Linked DNA regions of Homo sapiens: region 1 is linked to region 2. The links come from fine-mapping of genetic effects on gene expression. A gene starts in region 2. The other region holds a variant in brackets. All regions are shown on one strand. Distances are between the middles of the regions.

Region 1 (2,829 bases), 210 kb before region 2:
AGGTATGCCTACTTTTGCTTTAATGATCCTCTGAAATAGCTGGTCAAGAGCCTACCCTTTCTAGAGGGAAAAGAACTCTCCAGATGTTCTGAATGTTTCTGTCATTTGCAAGTCATCGCACAAAGGCTAAATTCACCAGGTGATTCCATACCATCTGGTGTGGGACAGATGTGCCACAGAACTACGAGTACCTTCCATGATTTAAACAAATAAACAAAAAAAAAATTCAAATGTAAAATGCTCTCTTTTTAATTACTAAATTAAGAAAGTTAAACAATTTAAAAATGTAAACTCACAAATAAATCATAACAAAAAAGGAATTAAGACTTCAGAGTTGCTAGTCAGTATTAAAAACTCAATAGAAATAGGATTTTTGATTTGTTGTTGTTAAACATATGTAATTTAAGGTTGGTACAAACAGCAACTAAAAATGTAATACTTTTTTGTTTTTGTGCATCCCCATGAAATGTAAAGTAGTGCATAGTTATTCCACTGGAGAACTCCTGGACATATAGAAAGTCATTCGTTAGCAGTACAGGACATTTAAAACACTTATTTTACAATGGGAAATGTACAACCCCCACCCTCATTTCCCCCAGAAATTTTAGTTGCATGAGAAAGTTTAGCGGGTTGCCATGACTACAATGCTATGGGTTTTAGATCACTTAAATGTGGTTACAGGTTTATTAAATTAAAAATGTCTGAAACATTTCAGCATTCATATTTTTATACAAGAAGTTTGTGTGGTATCCATCTTCCAGTTCTCTTGGTAGTATCAGCCATTTGCTTGCTTATTTTTAAGTTTTGAGAACAAATCGCAGTAAGTTGAAGCAAATAGTGCTAACAGAACTTGTAAATTCAGCTTGGGGGGTGGTTCCTGAAAAGAGTCAAAGTAACAACCACCTACAGGTACAGTCATGAACCAGGAAAGTGCAATCCAAATGAAAAAATTCATGCTTTGCAAAAGCCAAAAATGAGGCCACTGGTGTTTTCAGAATAACACCGGTGCTTTGATGCTGACTTGCAGTAAAATCCTCCCTCTGGGTCCCGCAGCTTGGTGGCTCAGGCCGGCCACAGTCTCCACATTAGCACCCACATTGTATATGTACAGGGACATATATATTATATATATTCATATTTATAAAAAAGAAAACAAAAACAAACACCTGTCCTGATTGGTTTTTGTTAAAACATGAAAAAAAATTTTATTGTTTTAGACAAAGAGGCCACTTTTGGAAAATAATACTTTTTTTTTTTTAGTTGAATCAGGTGAAGACAGAGTTAAAATCACATAGGATTTGCATTTTTAAAAAAGGAAAGCACTAGGATTGTTGGCACTGGAGTAACTATTTACACTGAACAGAGGTTTGGCCTTTTACATAACATCGATACAATGCATTTTCCAAAGTCTGAGAAATAACAAGGTTCTGTCTCGAATGCTTCACAGAGGAGGTTCGGATTTGGGGACAAGTGTCATTAATGAGGGCCATGGAAGTTCGTCAGCTTCAGAGTCACATGCAATCTGATCCTGGGCGGTTCCGCTGCTGGGGAGCAGCTGGCTACGGAATTGAAAGCTAATGGGGAGGGGTGGGGCAGCCTCTGGGACAAGGCCTCTCTCCGCAGACCCGGGCCTTACAGGTTTTCACCAGGTTGGTACTGGGGCTCTGTCGCGGTAAAGTAGTCTTCCAGGAAGCTCTGCAAGTACTCAAAAGTGGGGCGTTCTTCAGG[G/C]TCCTTTTTCCAGCAGTGGATCATGAGCTCATGCAGAGAGATGGGGCAGTCCTGCGGGCAGGGCATCCTGTAGCCTCGCTCCACCTGCTCCAGCACCTCCCGGTTGTTCATGCCTGCAAAGACAAGCGCAGTGAGAGTGGGCACCCCGGGGATCCAGGCCCTGACCGCCGCACTTGCAGATCCCCTTTCTTCTTCTTTGCGTCTGCATGTGGCTAAAACATGCGGAGTACTCCCATCCCCCCAGGAGTCAAACCCTGCCATGCTACTCAGGAGTAAAGAAGGAGTGCAGAACTGAGACATGAAAAATTCAGAATGACTCTCAAAACATGATAAGTGAAGGAAGCCAGACACAACAGGCAACATACGGTATGATTTCATTCATGCGAAATTCTAGAAAAGGCGCAACTACATCTATAGAAAGCAGATCAGTGGCTGCCTGGGGGAGGGGAGGAATCCCTGCCAAGGGGCCAGAGGGAACTCCAAGTGGGATGGGAATGTTCTGTCAGGGTCAACGGGTCAACAAACTTTTCCTGTAAAAGGCCAGACAGTAAATATTTTTGGCTTTGCGGGTCACATATGATCCCTGTCTTCTTCTTTTTAACAACCCTTTAAAAACGTACAAAACAAACACAGGTTGGGAGCCAGACCTGCCAACCCCTGTTCTATATTATGTATGGGGTGGTGTGACTGTTTATGTTTGTCAAAACTCAATAAACTGCATCCTTAAAATTGTTGAATTTTATTGTGTGTAGATTATACTTCAATTAAACTGACAACAATATATGAATAAAGCAGACAAAAAAATCCACACAGAATGAAAGCATGCTGCCCCTTGTTTATAGCATTTATAAACTCCATTTATGAACTTCATAAATTCGTTTTCTTCATGCCTGGGCAAACTCTTAGTTCCCCACTGTTGGAGATCTGCCATCATGCCAGCGTGGCTGGGCACTGTCTGGCCCTGCAACCCCACAGTGCCCTGAGGTTTGGTGAATTTGATGGGGAGATAGACCATGTCCGGGGCCTATCTCTACTGATGACTTCAGCCAGGCCATCCATCATTTGAGGTTTTTCTGACTCTTGGGAAGCTGTTGAAACACT
Region 2 (2,905 bases):
GTACTTTGTGTGTCTCCTCTCTATGCACTGAAAGGGCTCTTTGTGTCACACTCACACTCACACACCCGGCGAGTCTGTGTGATTTATTGGGGGAAGGAGGGGCAAGAAGGGTGATTTTATTATCCCTCTTCCCAGTGAGTCCCAGCACATCTCTGCTGGGCCCAAGCTCGGTGGCCTCCTTCTGGCCCAGTCCCCTCCGCCTGTGGCCGCAGAGATAACAGAGGGGAGGAGCCCAAACAAAAACAGCCATGGATCTAGGGAAGTAGAGAGGAAATCCAGCGAGGGAGCCGGAAAGGAAGGAGAAAAGAGCTGGAGGGAGCAGAGGGGTGGGGGACAGAGGAAGAGGAGGGAAGGCTCCAGCACAGGGGAAAGGGGAAGGGTGGGTGGGTGGTGGCACAGGAAGAGTGAAGGGGAGGATGGGGGAAGTGCAAGGGAGGTGCCAGAAATAGGCAGGAGGATGGGTTGGAGAAGGCGACCGCCGCCGAGGGAGGAGGCCGAGAGGTGGAGGAGTGGGGCAGGGGTTGGGTGGGGAGGGAAGCAGCACGGGGCATCAATTATTAAGTGATTACATCATCCCTGACATTAAAACAACACACACAGCCCCAGTCCCCGCGGGGGGCCCCAAAAGGAGGGCGGGGGCGGAGTCTGGGCCAGCCTCGCCCCCAAGCCAATTCCCATTTTCACCCGGCGCCCGCTTGCGGGCGAGGAAATGGGGTCCCCATCCCCGCGCTGCCTCGGGGCCGCACCCCGCAGGGGTGTCCTCCGGTGCAACCGCGGGAAGACCCCAAGCACCGACTCCCCGGCAGCCCCGCGGAGCGCCCTGGCGGCCAAGGGACCGCAGCACCGGGCCCTGCGGCGGGGGCGGCGTGCGCGGGGGCGCCGGCGGCCGGGCTTCTCCGCAGCATCCCCGAGGCCTCCCGCGACGCATCCCCGCCGCCTGCTTACCTGCGCGGCGCTGAGGCTCCGGAGCCCACTCACATGGTCCTCTCCCCGCCCTCCTCCGGCGCGGCCGAGGCGGCTCCGGGGGGTCCCCGGCGGGCCCGGGAGCCGGTGGGCCTTCCGAGAGCACCGAGGGGGCGGCGCCGGGGTGTCCCCGGCCCGGCGGCCGAATCCCTCCCTGGCGCGGGCGGCGGCCGCCGGGCGGTGCGGCGCGGGCGGCGGCTTTGTGTGCGCCCGGGCGGTCCTCGGTGCGCTGGGAGAAGCGCGGCGCGCCCGGGCGGGAGAGGACGCGCCGCTCGCACAACAACCTCGCCTCTACTCTCGCCGCCGGGCGGCGGGCGGGTCTCGAAGGCCTTCGGCTCGCGGCGACCCCTCCTCCTCGCCCGCGGCAGCCCCCTCCTCGCCGGCTCCGCTCCTGACAGATGGCGCAACTGCAACGACGCGCCGCCGCCACCAGCGCGGCTGCTCGCTGCTACTCTTGCTGATGCTCTGCCCCTCCAGCTCCGGAGGGGAGCGAGGAGGGGGCGGGGCGCGCCTCGAGAGTGACAGGCCCGGCTGCCCTATCAAAGAGCCCCTTGGGAGCTGCGAGCCGCAACCATTGGCGCCTGGGGCGTGGGCGGGACGGCAGTAGGTGGGGCCGCCGAGTGGGTTGAGCGTTACTGTGGCAGCGGGCATCCCAGGGTGCGTGCGGTGCAGGGTGTGCAAGAAAATGCGAGGTTGGAGGAGGAGGTCTGTGTGTTTTTAAGGATTGTGTGGAGTTGTGAGGTGGCGGAGTAGGGCGGGAGAAAGAGCGGAGAGTGTGAACTGCAGTTTCCGCTTTGCGGAAGGTTGCAGCTGCTGCTGCAGATTGGCACCTGCCATTCCCCCAAAACCATGGGAAACTGCCTCGAGACAGGGCTATCTTGCCTTTCTGGTGTCTTTTCATTTGAGGGTGAGAGGATGAAATGGAAAATTGGGCGGTGATAGCAGCGTTTTCTTTGATCAAACTGAAAAGAGTACGGAGCAAAGTAGAATCCTGTCCTGAAACGTGGAAACGCACAACAAATAACAATGAGGAGGAGAAGGAGATTAGGATCATTTTATCAGTCCCCTATTTCTGCGGACACTCATTTATATTTTTTTTCTAGCAAAAGTCTGGAGGAAGTATTACTGAAATAGGGGGAGGGGCCAAGCGGCGACTAAGGAACCTGAAATGACAGAGATTTGTTCGTACATTCCCCGCCCCACCCCCAAAAAACCTCGTTTAATTGTAGTCATTGGTTGTCTTTGGTTTCTCATAACATTCAAACTTCTCATGTTTTTTTCCCCTTCACTGAATCTGAGCTTTTGCTCATATTTCCCTTGATGAAATAATTGCCGGTTTAGTATACAGTTGGGAGTGCATCGGTCTTTATTTCCTATCCAGCTTTTCTATGGCAGGATGTAACTTCATAAAAAGAAACACTTTGGCTTCCTGATTTTCTTTATAGGTAATTCCTGTTTACTGAAAGTTCTGCTTTAAGGCATACTCAGAATCGCTCTCCTTAATGATTTTGGCAAGAACCCTACCTTCCCCCTCAGCAAATCTAATGTTCTAAGAAATTATAAGTGAATCAGCTTCTGCTTCTGTGCTCAAAATCTATAATATTGCCTTTCCGGCCCACTACTTGTTTTTACTGTAGTTTAAAAAAATCTGTCCCTTTTGCTGACTTTTTTCTTTTTGTACACACTACTTTTTAAGAAAAGTTGCTAACATTTATTAAATGATCTGCATCCTATGGAGGAGGAAACTGAGGAAAAGAAAAGTTAAGTAACTAACTCAAGGTGACAGTATACAGAGGTTACTGGATTTTTTTCCTTTTCCTTAAACAAAATGACAAATTAAACCATGTTTAAATTGTGTCTGGAAATTCCATAATCCCAAGAAATGGAACCATAGCTAGGACTAGGATATTTCCATACAAGAGAAAGCCAGCTTCATTTAGCC

Which allele goes with the higher level. Positions count from the first base shown, and alleles are read on the strand shown. Sizes are in standard deviations (SD) of each study's normalised expression.
With allele C in place of G in region 1, the expression in B cells of the gene that starts at base 1,430 in region 2 is lower (large effect, 2.5 SD a copy in Fairfax 2012).

Evidence for each region.
Region 1: its variant is fine-mapped to the expression of FYN in B cells (Fairfax 2012, PIP 0.95). The same link has a PIP of 0.9 or more in NK cells, monocytes and monocytes after LPS.

Annotation. Positions count from the first base shown.
Region 1 is chr6:111,660,107-111,662,935 of GRCh38, forward strand. It overlaps FYN (FYN proto-oncogene, Src family tyrosine kinase), which reads right to left. Exons shown (of 14, transcript NM_002037.5): 14 at 226-1,841. The coding sequence ends at 1,633. Among named protein-coding and RNA genes, the nearest start is that of TRAF3IP2, 56 kb to the left of the region's middle. RefSeq lists enhancers at 1,256-1,939, 1,940-2,621, 2,622-2,829. The variant G/C (reference allele first, on the strand shown) is at 1,729.
Region 2 is chr6:111,872,023-111,874,927 of GRCh38, forward strand. FYN (FYN proto-oncogene, Src family tyrosine kinase) reads right to left here and starts at 1,430. Exons shown (of 14, transcript NM_002037.5): 1 at 946-1,430. It overlaps LOC102724646 (a long non-coding RNA gene), which reads left to right and starts at 1,430. Exons shown (of 3, transcript NR_168402.1): 1 at 1,430-1,668. RefSeq lists silencers at 550-949, 1,100-1,349, 1,470-1,559 and an enhancer at 1,002-1,501.